2 separate regions of the Homo sapiens genome follow, and region 1 is linked to region 2. Evidence: fine-mapped expression QTL. A gene starts in region 2. The other region holds a variant in brackets. All regions are shown on one strand. Distances are from middle to middle.

What was found.
Region 1: its variant is fine-mapped to the expression of LRRC4B in prostate (GTEx, PIP above 0.99). The same link has a PIP of 0.9 or more in aorta.

What each region holds. Positions count from the first base shown.
Region 1 is chr19:50,077,287-50,086,685 of GRCh38, forward strand. No RefSeq gene overlaps it. Among named protein-coding and RNA genes, the nearest start is that of SNAR-A4, 11 kb to the right of the region's middle. The variant G/A (reference allele first, on the strand shown) is at 5,525.
Region 2 is chr19:50,562,895-50,572,293 of GRCh38, forward strand. LRRC4B (leucine rich repeat containing 4B) reads right to left here and starts at 5,541. Exons shown (of 3, transcript NM_001080457.2): 1 at 5,050-5,541.

The DNA of each region.
Region 1 (9,399 bases), 490 kb before region 2:
CATCCCTTTTTGCTGGAAGGATGAATTCATCTCCTGGAAGCCATATATGTAGGGGTCCCTTGACTGACAGTTCCAAATGAATCACACGGCAATGGGCAAGGGACAGTCCCTCAAAGCAGTAGGTGTCCACTACATTCTACCCTCAGCTACTTCACACTAATTCACATCTACATTCCGGGACACAACATTTCAAAAACTCCCACTGCAAAAATTGGTCCAATCACTGTGTCAGTTTGCTAGGACTGATGTAACAGGTTACAATAACCTAGCTGAAAACAACAGAAATTTATTCTCTCACAGCTCTGGAGGCCAGAAGTCTGAAGTCAATGTGGTAGTAACCACCAGGCACAGTGGCTCATGCCTGTAAATCCCAGCACTTTGGGAGGCTGAGGCAGGAGGATTGCTCAAGCCCAGGAGTTTGAGACCAGGTAATATGGTGAGATTCTCTTAAAAAAAAAAAAAAAAAATTGGCCGGGCATGGTGATGTTCACTTGTAGTTCCAGCTACTTTGGAGGTCGAGGTGGGAGTATTGCTCGAGCTCAGGAGTTCGAGACCAGCCTGGGCAGCATAGCAAGACCCTGTCTCTACAACTAATAGTAGTAATAATAATAATAGTAAAATTATCCAGGCATGATGGTGCTCACCTGTAGTCCCAGCTACTCTGGTGGCTGAGGCAGGAGGATCACTTGAGCCCAGGAGTTTGAGGCTGCAGTGAGCTGTGATGGCACTGCTGCCCTGCATCTCAAAAACATGATGCCGTGTGATACAGCCAGATACAAGGGTATATGCTGTAGGATTCCACTTTTGTGAAATTGTAGAAAGAAAACACTAATATGGGCGGGGCATGGTGGCTCACGCCTGTAATCCTAGCACTTTGGGAGGCTGAGGCAGGCGGATTACTTGAGATCAGGAGTTCAAAAGCAGCCTGGCACCTGTAATCCCAGCTACCTGGGAGGCTGAGTAGGAGAATCGGGAGGCGGAGGTTGCAGTGGGCCGATCATGCCACTGCACTCCAGCCTGGGCAACAGAGTGAGACTCCAACTCAAAAAAGAAAGAGAGAAAGAAAGAAAGAGAGAGAGAGAGAGAGAAGGAAGGAAGGAGAGAGAGACACAAAGAAAGAAAGAAAGAAAGAAAGAAAGAAAGAAAGAAAGAAAGAAAGAAAGAAAGAAAGAAAGGGGCCAGAGGCCAGGCACGGTGGCTCACCCTGTAATCCCAGCACTTTGGGAGGCCGAGGCAGGTGGATCACGAGGTCAGGAGTTCAAGACCAGCCTGGCCAACATGGTAAAACCCCATCTCTACTAAAAATACAAAAATTAACCGGGTGTGGTAGCGAGTGCCTGTAATCCCAGCTACTTGGAAGGCTGAGGCAGGAGAATGGCTTGAACCTGGGAGGCGGAGGTTGTAGTGAGCTGAGATCACACCACTGAACTCCAGCCTGGGTGACAGAGTAAAAGAAAAGAAAAGAAGAGAAGAGAAGAAAAGAGAAAAGAAAAGGCTAATACGCAGGGGCAGAAAATGGATTAGTGGTTGACTGGGGGCAGTGGCAGTGGTTATGGAGAGACTGATTACTAGTGGACACAGGAAAACTTTCCGGATGATGGAAGTGATCACACAACCGAATACATTTGTCAAAATTCATTGCGTTTAAAATTGGTTCATTTAAATTCTTGTACATTGTTGCAAAATACACATAACACAAACTTTACCATCTTAGCCAATTTTTTTTTTTTTTGAGACGGAGTCTCGCTGCAATGCCCAGGCTGGAGTGCAATGGCATGGTCTTGGCTCACTGCAACCTCTGCTTCCCCGGTTCAAGCGATTCTCCTGCCTCAGCTTCCAGAGTAGCTGAGATTACAGGCATGAGCCACTTTCCCAGGACTTAGCCAATTTTAAGTGTACAGTTGCATTGTTGTGCAATCATCACCCCTACTCATCTCCACTCTTTCCTCTTGTAGAATTGAAACTGTTCCCATCAAGCAACTCCCACTGCCTTCCCTTCCCAGCCCCTGGGAAGCACGTTCTACTCTCTGGGAAATTCCCTATGAATTTGACTACTCTAGGTACCTCATGTAAGTGGAATCATACAGCATCTGTCTTTTTGTGATGGGATTGTTTCACTTAGCATGAATGTCCTCAGGCTTCACCCATGTTGTAGCATGTGTTAGCATTTCCTTCCTTTTTAAGGTTAAATAATTTTCCATTATGGGCCTGGTGCAGTGGCTCACACCTGTAATCCCAGCACTTTGGGAGGAAGAGGCAGGCGGATCACGAGGTCAGGAAATCGAGACCATCCTGGTCAACATGGTGAAACCCCATCTCTACTAAACTACAAAAAATTAGCCGGGCGTGGTGGCAGGCGCCTGTAGTCCCAGCTACTTGGGAGGCTGAGGCAGGGGAATCACTTAAACCTGGGAGGCGGAGGTTGCAGTGAGCCAAGATCGCACCACTGCACTCTAGCCTGGGCGACAGAGCGAGACTCCATCTCAAAAAAAAAATCCATTATGTGTATATACCACATTTTGTCGAACCATTTATTTGTTGATGAACAGCTGGGTTGCCTCCTTTACCTTTTGGGTATTGTAAATAATGCTGCTATGAAAGTGGGTTGCAAATATCTTTTTGAAATATTGATCCATTTTCTTGTACACAAATTATATTTTGATAAAGTTGGCTAAAACTAATACTCCCACCTAACATAACTATCTCTAGTGCAACTGCAGAAGCTTTCACCCCTTCTGCAAAGGGAGGGATCCCAAAGCCACATCCAATCCTCAGACCAAGATTTCTGGATATTGGCTATTCCTTTCATCAAGGGCACATGGAGTCTCTCTTGATCCTGAAAATTAATGTTAAGGCTGGGCACGGTAGCTCACACCTGTAATCCCAGCACTTTGGGAGGCCAAGGCAAGTGGATCACCTGAGGTCAGGAGTTCAAGACCAGCCTGGCCAGCATGGTGAAACCCTGTCTCTACTAAAAGTACAAAAATTAGCCCGGCATGGTGGCACACACCTATAATCCCAGCTACTCGGGAGGCCGAGGCAGAAGAATCACTTGAACCTGGGAGGCGGAGGTTGCAGTCAGTGGAGATTGTGCCACTGCACTCCAGCCTGGTGACAGAGCAAGACTCCATCTAAAAAAAAAATTAATGTTAAATGAAATTGTAGCCCCCTCAGCAACCCACCCCTGTGTATAACAGTGGAGGAAAAACAAGAAAACAATCACAATTCTCACTTGAAAGGGGAGGGAAGAGAAACAAAATAGTATATGCCATTTGCTAGACTTGCCAAGACTCCTGCACTTTCAAGAGACAAAAAACCGGCCTTTTAAAAAATTATTGCCAAGCTCGGTGGCTCATGCCTGTAATTCCAGCACTTTGAGAGGCTAAGATTGGAGGATCACTAGAGCCCAGGAGTTCGAGACCCAGCCTTGGCAACATAGCAAGACTCCATCTCTTTAAAAAAAAAAAAAAAAAAATATATATATATATATATATATATATAGCCAAGTGCCATGGTGTGCACCTGTAGTCCCAGCTACTCAAGAGGCTAAGGTGGGAGGATCGCTTGAGCCCAGGAGGTCAAGGCTGCAGTGAGCCATGGTTGAGCCACTGCAGTCCAGTCTGGACGACAGAGACCCAGTTTCAAAAAAAAAATTATTGAAGTACAACATACTCACAAAGAAACTCACAAATACCCAGTAAGTATGGATCAGATGACAGACTGAGCACACCATGTAACCATGGGTAACCAGCCCTGGGTCAGGAACTAGAACATTACCAGCTCTCCAAACCCCTCATGCTCCTTGTCAGTCACTTTTTTGTGTTTTTTTTTTTTTTTTGAGACAGAGTCTCGCCTGGAGTGCAGTGGCGCTATCTCGGCTCACTGCAAGCTCCGCCTCCTGGGTTCACGCCATTCTCCTGCCTCGGCCTCCCGAGTAGCCGGGACTACAGGCGCCTGCCACTATGCCTGGCTAATTTTTTTGTATTTTTAGTAGAGACGGGGTTTCACCGTGTTAGCCAGGATGGTCTCGATCTCCTGACCTCATGATCTGCCCACCTCGGCCTCCCAAAGTGCTGGGATTACAGGCGTGAGCCACCGCGCCCGGCCCCTTGTCAGTCACTTCTTCACCTCAAAGGTAACTACTACCCTGATTTCTGACACCATAAGTCAGTTTGCCTTGTTTTTGATCTTAATCTGCTTGGAATCCTACAAGCATAGAGACTTGTGTGTTGGAATTCTTTTTTTTTTTTTTTTTTTTTTTTGAGACGGAGAGTCGCTCTGTCACCAGGCTGGAGTGCAGTGGCATGATCTCAGCTCACTGCAACCTTCGCCTCCCAGGTTCAAACGATTCTCCTGCCTCAGCCTCCTGAGTAGCTGGGATTACAGGTGCGCACTACCACACCCAGCTAATTTTTTGTATTTTTAGTAGAGACAGGGTTTCACCATGTTGGCCAGGATGGTTTCTATTTCTTGACCTCGTGATCTGCCCATCTCGGCCTCCCAAAGTGTTGGAATTACAGGCGTGAGCCATTGCACCTGGCCTGAATTGTTTTATTCATCATACGTCTATGAGATTTGTCCATGTAGTTGCTGATTGTTGGAGGTTGTTCATTATCATTGCTGTATAAGAGTGTGTTATGAGCCAGGCACGGTGGCTCATGCCTATAATCCTAGCACTTTAGGAGGGTGAGGCAAGCAGATATCTTGAGCACAGGAGTTCAAGACCAGCCTGAGCAACATAGCAAGACCCCGTCTCTACAAAAAAAATACAAAAATTAGTGGGGTGTGGTGGTGCGTGCCTATCATCTCAGCTACTTGGGAAGCTGAGGTGGGAGGATGGCTTGAGCTTGGGAGGCAGAAATTGCAGTGAGCTGAGATCACACCACTGCACTACAGCCTGGGTGACAGAGGACAATCTTGTCTCAAAAAAAAAAGTGTGTTATGGGAATACATAATAATCTATGTATCCATTCTACTGTTGATTGACATTTAGGTGCCTTCTGATTTGGCATGATCACTTACAGTACTGCTATATACATTGAATTTTGGTGAACATATGTAGGCATTTCTGTATTTCTGTTGGGTATATACCTAGAAGTGTAATTGCTGGGTCCCAGGGTGTATGCATGGTGTGGGCATGTTCCTCTTTTTTTTTTTTTTTTTGAGATGGGAGTGGCCAGGCTGGTCGTGACCTCAAGTGATCCGCCGCCTCCCAAAGTGTTGGAATTACAGGCATGAGTCACCATTCCCAGCTTCATGTTCATCCTTAATAGACACTGCCAACCAGGTTTTCAAACTAATTTTCTCCATTTATACACCCGCCAGCAGTCTCTGAGAATTTCAGCTGCTCGCCAACATTTGGTATTGTTAGTCCTTTCAATTTTAGCAATTCTGGTGGGGCTGTAGCCGTGTTTTATTATGGTTTTAATTTACCTTTAGCCCAATGCCTAAAGAAATTTAACACCGTTTTGGGCCAGGCGCAGTGGCTCATGCCTATAATCCCAGCACTTTGGGAGGCCGAGGC[G/A]GGTGGATCACGAGGTCAGGAGATCGAGACCACGGTGAAACCCCGTCTCTACTAAAAATACAAAAAATTAGCTGGGCGCAGTGGCGGGTGCCTGTAGTCCCAGCTACTCAGGAGGCTGAGGCAGGAGAATGGCGTGAACCCAGAAGGCGGAGCTTGCAGTGAGCCAAGATCACGCCACTGCACTCCAGCCTGGGAGACAGAGCGAGACTCCGTCTCAAAAAAAAAATAAGAAAGAAATTTAACACTGTTTCAAATATTTATTGGGCATATGAACATGCTACTTTGTGAAATGTCAATTCACGCCATTCGTCCATTTTTCGACTGGTTTTTCTGCCTTTTTTAAAAAACAGGTTAGTAGGAGTTATTTCTTTATTTTTCTTATGAGTCTTTTGTTAGAATACATATTCTTCTCCCACTCTCTGGCTTGTCTTTTCATTCTCTTAATGGTATTTTTTGATGAGGATCAGTTTCTATTTTAATATAGTCCAATTTATCAACATTTTCCTTTATAGTTAAGGCTCCTTTGTTTCTGGTTTAAGAAATATTTTCTGGCCAGGCACACTGGCTCATGCCTGTAATCTCAGCACTTTGGGAGGCTGAGGAGGGAGGATCATATGAGCCTAGGAGTTCGAGACCAGCCTGGGCAACATAGCGAGACCCTATCTCTATTAACACAAACAAGTAAATAAAAGAAATATTTTCTTACCCTGAAGGTTCTGAAGATACTCTATGATATTTTCTTCTAGAAGTTTTATTGTTTAAGCTTTAACATTTAGATCTACAACACATCTGGAATCAATTTTTGTGTATGGTGTGAGGTAGAGGTCATATGGTTATCAACTGGCTCAGCCCTATTTATCCAAAAAGATCATCTTTTGCTTCTCACTGCACTGAAATGTTGCTTTTGTCATAAACCAAGTTACCGTATATGTGTGAACTTTTCCTGATTTTTCCGTCTTGTTCTTTTGGTCTATTTGTTTTTCCTTGCAAGAGTATGCTGCTTTAATTATTATTATAATAAGCCTTGCTCTCTGGAAAGTACTCTGGCTTTTTTTGTTTTTGACAAAGGGAATTTGTTGACTTATAGAACCGAGCTATATAACTAGCTTCAGGCATAACTGGATCCAGGCACTAAAATGAATCTTTAGCAATACCGCTCATTTCCCATCTGGGCTTTACTTTTCTGTATCTTGACTTCCCTCTCAGGCAGAATCTCTTCCCTCACGGTGACAAACAGGGCCCACAGCAGCTCGAAGCTTCCATACTATCATTTTAACAACCTAGCTTATCATTTTAACAACCTAGCAGAAAAGGGGTACTGCCTTCCTGAATGGTGATACCAAAGTCTCAAGGTTAGCTCTCATTGGCCCAACTTGGGTCACATGTCCATTTCTATAGTAACCATGTGTCTTAGTCCATGTTGTCTTGCTATAAAGGAAAACCTGACGCTGGGTAATTTTTATTTTATTTTATTATTTTTTTTTTGAGACAGGATCTTGCTCTGTCACCTAGGCTGGAGTGCAGTGGCGCAATCTTGGCTCACTACAATGTCCGCCTCCCAGGTACAAGTGATTCTCCTGCCTCCAGTGTAGCTGGTATGACAGGTGCCCGCCACCACACCTGGCTAATTTTTTGTATTTTTAGTAGAGACAGGGTTTCACCATGTTAGCCAGGCTGGTCTCGAACTCCTGACCTAAAGTGATCCACGAGGCTGGGTAATTTATAAAGAGAAAAAGGTGTATTTGGCTTATGATTCTGCTGGCTGGAAGATTGGGCATACAGAGAAAGTCTAGAGCTACTTCCACTCTTGGTGGAAGGAGAAAGAAAGCAGGGATCATGTGACAATAGAGGAAGCAAGAGAGGCAAGTGTCAGCCTCTCTTTAACAACCAACTCTAATGGGAACTAATGGAGGAAGAACTCACTCACCCACACTCCCAGGGAGGGCATTAATCTATTTGTGAGGGGTCCACCCCTGTGACCCAAACACCTCTCATTAGGACCCCATCTCCAACATTGGGGATCCAATTTCAAGAACGAAATTTAGAAGGCAGCCTGGCCAACACGGGGAAACCCCGTCTCTCCTAAAAATACAAAAATTAGCCGGGCGTGGCATGTGCCTATAATCCCAGCTACTCAGGAGGCGGAGGCAGAAGGGTCACTTGAACCCAGGAGGTGGAGGTTGCACTGAGCCAAGATTGTGCAACTGCACTCCAGCCTGGGTGACAAAGCAAAACTCTGTCTCAAAAAAAAAAAAAAAAAATTGGATGGGACATACATCCAAACTACTGCACATCATAACCAAGGTCATGAAGTACTCAGGTTGGCCAGGTCTGACTCTTGTTCTCACTCTGAGATCCCTGGCAAGATCCAGTCAAAAAATGTATATTTTGCATGGAGAGGAGTGATAGGAAAATCAGATGTTTAAGAGAATAAAAAGAGAAGCTATAGATTGTGAGAAAATCTTTTCAAAACACCTATCAGACAAAAAGCTGGTATCCAGGCCAGGTGTGGTGGCTCACATCTGTAATCCCAGCATTTTGAGAGGCTGAGGTGGGCGGATCACCTGAGGTCAGGAGTTTGAGAGCAGCCTGGCCAACGTGGCAAAACCCTGTCTCTACTAAAAATACAAAAATTAGCCTGGCATGGTGGTGGGTGCCTGTAATCCCAGCTACTCGGGAGGCTGAAGCAAGAGAATCACTTGAACCTGGGAGGCGGAGGTGGCAGTGAGCTAAGATTGCGCCATTGCACTCCAGCCTGGGCAACAGAGCAAGACCTTGTCTGAAAAAAAAGAAAAGAAAGAAAGAAAAAGAAAAAGAGAAAAGAAAGCTGGTATACAAAGAACTAAAACTTAACAATAAGAAAACAAACAACCCGCTCCCTCTCCATCTCCCTCTCCCTCTCCCTCTCCCTCTCCCATCTCCCCACGGTCTCCCTCTCCCTCTCTTTCCACAGTCTCCCTCTCCCTCTCTTTCCACGGTCTCCCTCTGATGCCGAGCCGAAGCTGGACTGTACTGCTGCCATCTCGGCTCACGCAACCTCCCTGCCTGATTCTCCTGCCTCAGCCTGCCAAGTGCCTGCCATTGCAGGCACACGCCGCCACGCCTGACTGGTTTTCGTATTTTTTTGGTGGAGACGGGATTTCGCTGTGTTGGCCAGGCCGGTCTCCAGCTCCTAACCGCGAGTGATCCGCCAGCCTCGGCCTCCCGAGGTGCCGGGATTGCAGACGGAGTCTGGTTCACTCAGTGCTCAATGGCGCCCAGGCTGGAGTGCAGTGGCGTGATCTCGGCTCGCTACAACCTCCATCTCCCAGCCGCCTGCCTTGGCTTCCCAAAGTGCCAAGATTGCAGCCTCTGCCCGGCCACCACCCCGTCGGGGAAGTGAGGAGCATCTCTGCCTGGCCGCCCATCGTCTGGGACGTGAGGAGCCCCTCTGCCTGGCTGCCCAGTCTGGAAAGTGAGGAGCGCCTCTTCCCGGCTGCCATCCCATCTAGGAAGTGAGGAGCACCTCTTCCCGGCCGCCATCCCATCTAGGAAGTGAGGAGCGTCTCTGCCTGGCCGCCCACCGTCTGAGATGTGGGGAGCGCCTCTGCCCCGCCGCCCCGTCTGGTATGTGAGGAGCGCCTCTACCCGGCCGCGACCCCGTCTGGGAGGTGAGGAGCGTCTCTGCCCGGCCGCCCCGTCTGAGAAGTGAGGAGACCCTCCGCCTGGCAACCGCCCCGTCTGAGAAGTGAGGAGCCCCTCCGCCCGGTAGCCACCCCGTCTGGGAAGTGAGGAGAGTCTCCGCCCGGCAGCCACCCCATCCGGGAGGGAGGTGGGGGTCAGCCCCCGCCAGGCCAGCAGCCCCGTCCGGGAGGGAGGTGGGGGGGTCAGCCCCC
Region 2 (9,399 bases):
CACACCTGGCTGATTTTGTATTTTTGGTAGAGACGGGGTTTCACCATGTTGGCCAGGCTGGTCTCAAACTCCCGACCTCAGGTGATCCACCCGCCTCAGCCTCCCAAAGTGTTGAGACGGCGTGAGCCACCATGCCTGGCCTGTCTCTGTCTAGGTCTCTCAACCTCCCACCAGGATCCCAGATACTACCAGACACCCCCCATTCTCACTCTCAGCAGCCCTCCTGGGGAAACAGCAGTCCCCTGGGCTCCCGCCTGCCTCCCGCAGTGAGCCCCCATCAGCCCCTCTCGTGGGTCTCCAAGGCAGCCCCTCCACCTCTGCCTGCCATGACAACAGTTGCGCGTGGGTTTCCAGGCAACAAGGGGCATCCTGCCACTCTCCTTACTCTCCTGCCACCCCCTGTCTGGCGGAGCCAGCCCAGCCTCAGGAACTGGGACTCGAAGGGAAGGGAGGTTCTCCCCAGTGGGGACAAAGGGTCTCCAAACTCAGAGTTAATGAGGTTTCCCGTACCCCACCAGAGAGGACACAAAGACGTGCCCCCTTCACCCAGCAAGGGTGATGGTGGAGGGGATGCTGCTGGGCTTGAGCGCTGCCAGGCACAGAGGGGAGCCCTGTCCTTTGCACCCCTATCTGGAGGTGAGGCCCTCCCTCCAGAAACAGCGTCCGCATCCCAGGTCCTCTAAGGCAGCCCCTGCTCTCCACCTGCTCTGGGGCCAAATGTGCAGCCTGGTGTACAGAGAAGCCCACCCCCTGCCTACGGGCTGTGATGCCACATGCTGGGGACAAGAGTGTGGGGTCTGTGGCCCACCCCAGCCATCAGCCAGCTGAGAAGGACAGGCTGCAACATGGTGCCTTCACGCAACGCTGACTTTCCAACACTGTGAGGGGCTGGCAGTTTCACAGCAGATCCTGGTCCTGGAGAATGGGCGTGTGCTCTGCGTCCTGGCAGTCTTAAGAACCACTTCTCCCAGAGAAGGATAAGACTCTTCCTGCTCTCGGCAAGGGAAGGAGGCCATTTAAGTGGAAACAGGGCCCAGTCAAAGTGAGGCTTGGAGTTAGGGCAAACTGATGGGGGGATGAAGGAGGAGGGGCAGAGAGAGGACCCGGCAAGGGAAACCAAGGGAAGGAGAGTGGAGAGGGTGACAGGGCACAAAGAGATGGAGCAGAGAGGAAGAGGAGCAAACAGCAGAGGTTGCAAACTCCTCTGTCTATGGAGCCCAGCAGGGAAGATGATCCCGATGCTGGTTAGAGGGGAGAGTGGGGAGTGGTGGCCCTTTGCACCTGAGCACAACCCACAGTTATCCAGGGGGAAGACGATTCCAAAAGCTGACAGTCTAGATTTTTATGCAAAATCTCTAATTTAAAAAATGTTGGCAACAAATTAAACATGTTGAAAGCACTGGGGGAAAATAACCCTCTTGGGCCGCCCGGAGGACCCCAGGTAAGTGAGTCCTCAGGGATGTGGGGAGAGGGAGCCACGGGGAAGGAGCAGGGGAGGCGGGGAGGCAGACAGGCTGGCAGGAACAGCAGCAGAGGTGAGGGCGAGTGACACAGAGGGACAAAGAAGGGAGGCACAGAGAGCGGTGTCGAGCAGAGACAGAAATAGAGGCAGGTTTCACAGCAGATGGGGTGGGAGAGGGAAAGACTGATGAATGAGTCCACAGACTAGACGGATGGGCCAGGTCAGCAAGACATTGGGGGCTGGGAGGGCAAAGGGTCAGTCCCAGGGAAGATGAGGGGAGATGGAGAGGCGAGACGGCTTGACAGAGACAGGAGGTCCAGGTGACACCTCGAGACAGATGCCCGGCCAGAGAGAGTGGGGTGAGAAGGGATGAAATGCAGGGAGAGAGGATGGAGAGAGAGAACCAGTGTGAGCTACACAGCAGGTGTCCTAGCAGGTGAGACAGGTGATTGAGGGGGTGGGGACCCTGGCAAGAAAGCAGGGCCAGGGTTCCGGAAGGGACTGAGGATTCAGCGGCCACCCCCGCCCCCAATCCCCAACCCACAGCACCTCTGCCTGAAGATCGGCCTCTCTGCATGGGCCCTGAGGGTGTGTGTGCAGGCACATGTGTGCACAGGCTCTGCTTGTGAGAGATGCCAGCGCCCTCTGATACCTGATGTCTTAATTCTGCTGACCTCTCGGACGGCGAGGAGGTCCCTGAGGAGCCCCGTGGCGAGAGGAACACTCTCAGGGCTGTCTCTGAGTGGGATTAAGGGTGACTGCTGGATGGGGCTGGCCCTCCCTGCAGTGCACACACGTGCCTCCGACGCTGGCACTCGGTTTGGTGTGTGCGCCACAGTGCACAGCTCTGTGACTGTCTTAGCGGCACCTGGGGCTGCATCTCTGTAGCTCTGGGGCCACCTCCGTGCCTTTTGCCTTGTGTCTGTCCGTAGGCGTGAGGCCACGAGGCCACAGGACCACAAGGCAAGGGCCTCCTGCCTTTGTCTCTCCCTCCAGGTCTGTGTACGAAGGACTGTGTGTGTCTCTGTGTGACACACGACTACAGGTCTGGGGACTGCTCCCTGTCTCTCCTGACCACTGGCTGACTGAGTGTGGGGGCTGCGTCTGCAACTGGGCCTCTCTGGTTCCATATCGGGGTCTCTGGCTGCCAGTGAATGACTGTGTGCTCTCGTGTGTGTGTGTGTGTGTGTGTGTGTGTGTGTGTGTACCTGCCAGGGGAATCTTTGCCTCCACGTGCCCCGTGTCTTCCTCGCACGCTCCCACTCTCTGTCGCTGACTTGCTGACTTGGGGTCCCTCTGACAAGTCAGAAGCGGCCTCTAATCCCCCAGAACTCTGGTGGCCAGTGTCCCCCGGCTCCCTGCTGGCCCCAGCAGGCACCCCGCGGGTCTGTCCCACCCTCCCTGAGTCTGTGGCTCCCTGCGTCTCTGCCTCACCCGCGTGTCTGCTCTCTGGGTGGGAGTGGCGTGTGTCCCCGGCTCCCCGACTCTTTCTTTCGGAAATTAAGTGAGTAACTCCGTGACTCCGTGCTGATGCCCTAATTGCCTGTATGTGTGTTTCGGAGGCTGGGTCCCTTCTCTCCCTCTGTGCCTCCCTCCCTGGCTCCCACTCTTCCCTTCCTTGGGTCTCTCTCCCCGCCTTTCGGCGGCTTCACTCTCTGTCCCTCATTTCTCTGTGTGCGTTTGGACAATCCGGTGGCCAGGAGGAGAGGAGCCCCAGGGAGGAGGAGGAGGAGGAAGGTGGGAAGGCGAAGTGGAGGCTGCGGAAAGGCAGGTTAGAAGGCGAAGGCTGCGGAAGATGCTACAGGAAGAGGGAGGTGCGGTCCTGGCCGCGGTCCGGGGGTGGGGGGCGGGAGTTTTCAGGCTCCTGGACCAGGAGGGAAGCCGGCTCCGGCTACTCCCAGCTGCCTGGAGCCCGAGTTCCTGTCTGGCGGCTGCGCGGCCGGGACTTGGGATGTGAGGCGCATAGCAATGGGGCGCTGCGGAGGCGCCACTGCAGCTCCCAGCTGGAGAGGGGGGCGGGGAGGGGGCCGAGGGGCAGCCCCGAGGCTCCCTTCCCCCTCCCCCTTCCCAGCTGGGCTCTCCCCAGGGGAATTCCCCACCCCGACAGAAAGTCACCAGAGGCTGCGGGGAGGGGGCAGGGAGGAGGGGAGGGCGCCTAGGAGGAGAGCAGAGGTGAGGAGGTCTGGGGAAGGAGATGGGGGTGCAGAGAGGAGGCGAAGGGGTGGAGGGGTGGGCAAGAGGCCATCCTGGGCTCTGGAGACTCGAGTCCTGGAGAGAGACTGGCTGGGCCCCTGGCAGGACAGGACCCCAGGGAGGCAGGGGCATAGAGATGGGGGGAACCCTGAGAGCCCGGGATTGATGGTGAGTTGGAAGGAGAGGCTCCCAAAAGGAGAGAGCTAGGATTGGGGGGGTCTGAGACTGGGGAGTACTATGGGGTGAGGAGACAACGATGGAGGGGGTCTCTGGGTGATGAAAGGTCATAGAAGGATGTTTCAGAGAGTGATGGGCTAAGGAGAAGGCGACTGGGGGTGTTGGGGAGAAAGGGGAGAGGCTGGGGTGCAAGGCCCAAAGAGGGGCGGGGAGGGAGTGGGAGGAGGGAGCTAGAGGAGAGGGCGGCTGAAGTGAGGGTCTCCTGGACAGAAGGTCTGGAGAGGGATATCTGGGGGATTGTCAGAGATGGGGGTTAGAGAAGGCTGAGGAGCAGATGCCGTGTCTTAGAAGGTCCTAGAAGAGCAGGTGTGAGGGTCGGAAGCCTGGGGAGGAGGCAGCAAATGGGGGGCGGGGGTCTCCAGGAGGAGAGGTTTCCAGGAGGGGAGGGCGGAGGGAGGTGGGAGAGGCAGTGGTCCTGGAGAGACACGTGCCCAAGGATAGAAGGCCCCAAAGCCTAGTGGGGTCAGGGAACGGGGGTCTTGGAGAGACGGAGGGGCAGGGGTCCGAGCCGCCCACCAGGAGAGGCGGGGTGACCCCAGAGGGAGAAGGGCTGAAGACTGGGGAGGGGGTTGTCTCACTCCCCAATCACCCCCTCCGTCTTTCCCATTTTCACTTCCCAAACTCCCCGGTTCTCCCCGGTTGCCACGGCAACCGCTCTTGCCAGGCGCGGTCACCAAGGAAACCCCGTGCCCGCCTCTCCCCCCTCCCCATCACTGGCGTGCCCCCCCCACCCCAAGCAGCAGCGGTGTGGAGGGTGGGAGGGGCCATGGGGAGAGGAAGAACCTGGACTCCCGCCCCAGAAAGGGGGGCCCGGACCTACGCCCGGAGAGCCCCCCACCCTAAGCCTACTTCCTCAGCCCCACAGCTGGATACGCAGCGACCGCCGGACGCACCCCCCACAACCTGTCCCCAGGCAGCGGCGACAACCACCCCCCCCACAGCACAGAACTCGCCCTGCCCGGAGAACCCCCACCCAGTCGCCTCCCCCACCGGCTTCTGCCTCCCATTAGGCCCCGCCCCCTGTCCTCTGCCATCCCCCCCCATCCCGGAGGAGGCCTAAGACCACTGTCCCCCAATTAGCGAATGCCCCCCACCCACCCCCCGCGGTTCCGCCTCCGGCCCCCGCCCCCGACCCGTGCCCCTTGGCGGCTACTCACAGCGAGGAGAGGGGTTCCTTCCGGGGGGCAGCATGCCCGGCCCGTGGGGGGAGGACCCCCCCAATGAGGCTCAGGAATTTGGGGTGCAAGGCCCGCTGCGGGGAGGCGCGGGGGGCGGGGCTGCGGCCGGGCCTGGAGCCTCTCGCGCTCTCCCCCCTCCCCGGCTCCTGGGTGGGGAGGGGGCTTCCGCAGCGGCGGCGGTGGGGCTGGGGGGGCCGCTCTGCCTCCTCGCCTCGCGCCCGCCTGCCGTCCGGCCCCGCGCCCTCGCCCGCCGCCCGCCTTCCTTCTTGCCTTCCTTTCTTTCCTTCTTTCTTTCCTGGCTTCCTTCCTTCCAGCCTTCCTTCCTTCCTTCCTCCCTCCTCGGGCCCGCCGGCGCCGCTCTCCCCCCACCCCACCCCCCCCCAGGCCCCGGCCCCGGCCCCGGCCCCCGCCTCGGACGGTGCGGCAGCGACCGAGAGCAGCCGAGAGCGGCGGAGACGGGAGCGGAATACTGATGATGGTGGGAGCGGGCGGGCGGAGGGAGGGAGCAGGGAGGGAGGCCCGGGAGGAGAGGAAGGGGGGAGAGAGGGAGGGGAGGGAGGGCAGCGTGGAGAGGGAGGAAGGAAAGAGGGGGGAAGAACCGGAGAGGATGGGAGAGGGAGGGAAGAAAGGAGAGGGAGACGGGAGGGAAGGGGAAGGGGGGGAGGAAAGAAGAGGGAAGGGGAGGAAAGAAGGAAGGAAGTGGGAAGGGGGTGGAAGAAAGAAGAGGGGGAGAAAAAGGGGAGGAGCAGGGGAGAGAGGAGGGAAAGGGGAGAGGGTGTGGGAGGGGAGGGGAGAGGAGGGGGTAACTCCTGCAATAAGGTCCTGGATGAAGGGGAGGGGAGGGCGGGGGGCAGGGGGAGTGGGTAGAGGAAGAGGAAAGGAGGGAGAGGAGGAGTGGAGGGGGAGATGGGTAGAGAGATGGGCAGGAGAGGCCCAGGGGCAGGGAAGTGAGGGGAAAGAGGAGGTAGGGAAGGCCTAACTTTGAGGGCTGCAGGGGACAGAGGGGCCTGGAGGGCGGCGGGGGCTGTGGGGAGAAGAATGGGGGGTGCGGTGTGCGTTGTCAGGAAGAGCAGGGGAAGCTGGCAGGACCCGGAAGAGGCAGGAGGATCTAAGTGGGACAGAGATGAGAGGATGGAAGAGGGAGGGAAGGACCCGTCGGGGGGAGGGGGGAGGAGAAAGATCTCGGGGGAGAGGAGAGAAGCTGGGGAGCTGGAGCTTTGAGGGCCCAAGACTGGGTGGCAAGAGCCCGGGGAGTAGACAGAGTGGGGGAGGGGACAGAGGGCCTTTCTTGAACTCCGCTGTATGCCCGCTTCGTCCGCCCCTCCACCTCATGAAGAGAAGAACCTTCAAACCCATTTTCCAGAAGAGACCACTGAGCTCTTGGAGGAGCCAGGATGGGGTTTGAATGCAGTCTTGGGCTGGGGGTACCCTGAGGGAGATGGAGAATGGGTCAGTTCCTAGCTTTCGTCCCTGGTCCAGACTTGGCAGGTGGAGGCACCTGGGAGGGGCAGAGGGCACAGCCTGCAGCCTCCCTACTCACTCTCCTCTCACCTCCCCCAGGTGTTGGCAGCGGGTGCTGGGGACGCATTTAGAGCTGTGAAGCTGAGCTGCATCTTGGGTGCAGGGAGGGGGAGGGCAGATGCAGAGGCCTCTGGGAGGTCACCGTGACCCTCCCCTCTACCTCCCCGGTCCACTACCCCAAAAGCTTGGGCCCCAAGGAAGGGGGACATCGGGAATCAGGGGCGGAGAAACCCAGAAGGAGGGGTGGCCCCTGTCCAGGACACTGAAGATCCTTCCAGATGTTAAAATTAGCACAGAAGTTTCACCCCTGCCTTGTTATCCCCCAAAACGCTGACTAATAACTGAGGACTCAGGAGAGAGAGAAGAAAGATGAAGGTTCCTTCTTTCAGTGCCAGGGGACCCGGGACAGACTCTCCCTCTTCCCCTTCTCCTCGGAGAGCCCCAGGGAGGGAAAGTGTGGCTGTACCCCTGCAGGCAGAGCCTGGGGAGAGTCAGGGTTGGAAGCTGGAAGGAAAGTGGGCCAGACACATCTATAATGAGCCAGGGTTCCCGAGAGAAGCCAGGTCACAGATGGGTTCGGAAGAGGCGGTTTTGGGTGGGCGCTGGTGGGTGCTGAGCCCTGAGAGCTGCCGAGAGGGGAAACTGAGAAGGGGCTGGGCGAGGGCCAGGGAGTGGCAGGTGGCTGTGGTGCTTCGGGTTTCACCCGCCCCTGGCGCCGCTCAAGTCTAGTTCGTGAGACTGGACCAGTGAATGTGTGTGTGCACCAGGGTCCAGCACAGAGTAGGCCAGGACCGATGGTGATACCAGCAAAACAGAATCACATGGTGGCAGCCCGCGGTTCCTCCTGGTCTCCCACAGGCCAGATGCTGTGCCCAGCACCTCACAAGCGTGGCATCAATCCTGCAACCATGCGGTACCAACTCCTAGGGATGGTGGTACCTGGTGGGCACAGGTGAGAGCAGGCCCCTGATGAGCCCTGAGTTAACCCTTTCATTACAAGAGGGTCTCGGCCGGGCATGGTGGCTCGCACCTGTAATCCCAGCACTTTGTGAGGCCGAGGCGGGAGGATCACTTGAGGTCGGGAGTTCGAGACCAGCCTGGCCAACATGGTGAAACCCCATCTCTACTAAAAATACAAAAATTAGCCAGGCATGGTGGTGCGCGCCTGTAATCCCAGCTACTCGGGAGGCTGAGGCACGAGAATCACTTGAACTCGGGAGGCCTCCAGAGGTTGCAGTGAGCCGAGATCACGTTATTGCACTCCAGCCTGGGTGACAGAGCGAAACTCAGTCTCAAAAAACAAACCAAGAGGGTCTCAGGTGAGAGGCCAAGCCGTGTCAGGTGGGGCCGTTAGAGAAGCAGGGAAGTATTCCAATATTTGAACAACCAGCGAACCCTCTTGGTCCATGCAGCCTAAGTCTCAGCCCTGCCTGGAGGGTATGACTGCCCCTGTTTTACTGAAGGAGAAATGATTTGCCGTCAACCTCCAGAGCTCATCAAGGGTCTTCAGCACCGGGCACTGTTCAGGGCTTTGAGAGCCCGGCCGGAGAACAGTAAGGAGACAGCCCCTGTCCCCGTGGAACTGACCCCTCAAGGTCCTATTTCCAAGAGCAGTGTGAGCAATGAAGAAAATAAGAGGACAATTAGGGAGGAGAGAAGTTGGTGGGCGGTCAGGAGGACAGACTTGAGGTGATCAGGGGAGGCCTCCTGGAGGAGGTGTCTTTTGTGGCGAGGCCAAAATAAGGAGATAGCTCATTGCGTGCACAGGGGCAAGCACCTGGGGCAGAGGCCCCCAGATGGCAGCAAGCCGGGCCCGTTTGAGAGATGGGAGCCAGATAGGTGTGGCGTGGAGGAAGAAGAGAAGCAGAGTGGAAAAAGATGAGGATGCGGCCCCAGGTTTGGCTCAAACACAAAACCAAATCTTAACGCTTCCCACTGTCCCCTAAACCTTGCCCTAAGGCTTAACTCTAATCTCCCACTCAGGTGACTGTCCTGAGCAACTGGAACACTGATCCTCAGTTTTGATTCATGTTGTCAACATGGATTGGGGACTCTGATGTCCCAGAAATGGTATTAGGTAAGAGACAGGGACAGTGACCCTCCACAGTAATGAGTGCTCAAAGGTATTTTCACCATTTCAAAAAATAAAACCAAAAAACAAAAACAGACAAAAAAAAAATGGAAGTTGTACATTTCCTTCGGGATGGGATTTCAGAGGTTAAATTTCAAATTTCTTTGCTTCAGGCTGTAAAAAAAATTATCCACTCAGTGTGTTCACTGCCTGTCTCACCCCAATCAGAAGCTATGATCGGCAGTTTGGTATACCTTTGATAAATAAAATATGGGAAAATGAATGAACTTTTCACTTAATGTAGTTTGGTTTGCTCAGAAAAATCTCTCAAAGTGGGACTCATGGGGGACAATGGCTAAAGGAATCACAGCCACTCAGATGTTCCTGTTATTTAGTTCCACACAGTTGCACTGGACAACTCCCAGGCACCTTTCACCTGGGCTGTGATATAACAAGACTGCCACCCATGATAGGAAGCTATGGGAAGGTGGCTCGCACCACCATGGGTGCTAAGCTGCTTGGCCTTATGCCTTACCCCAATTCTCCTTTTTTATTTTTTTTGAGACAGGGCCTCGCTCTGTCACCCAGGCTGGAGTGCAGTGGTGCGATGTTGGCTCACCGCAACCTCCACCTCCCATTCTCGTGCCTCAGCCTCCGAGTAGCTGGGACTACAGGCGTGCACAACCATGCCCGGCTAAGTTTTGTATTTTTAGTAGAGATGGGGGTTTCACCATGTC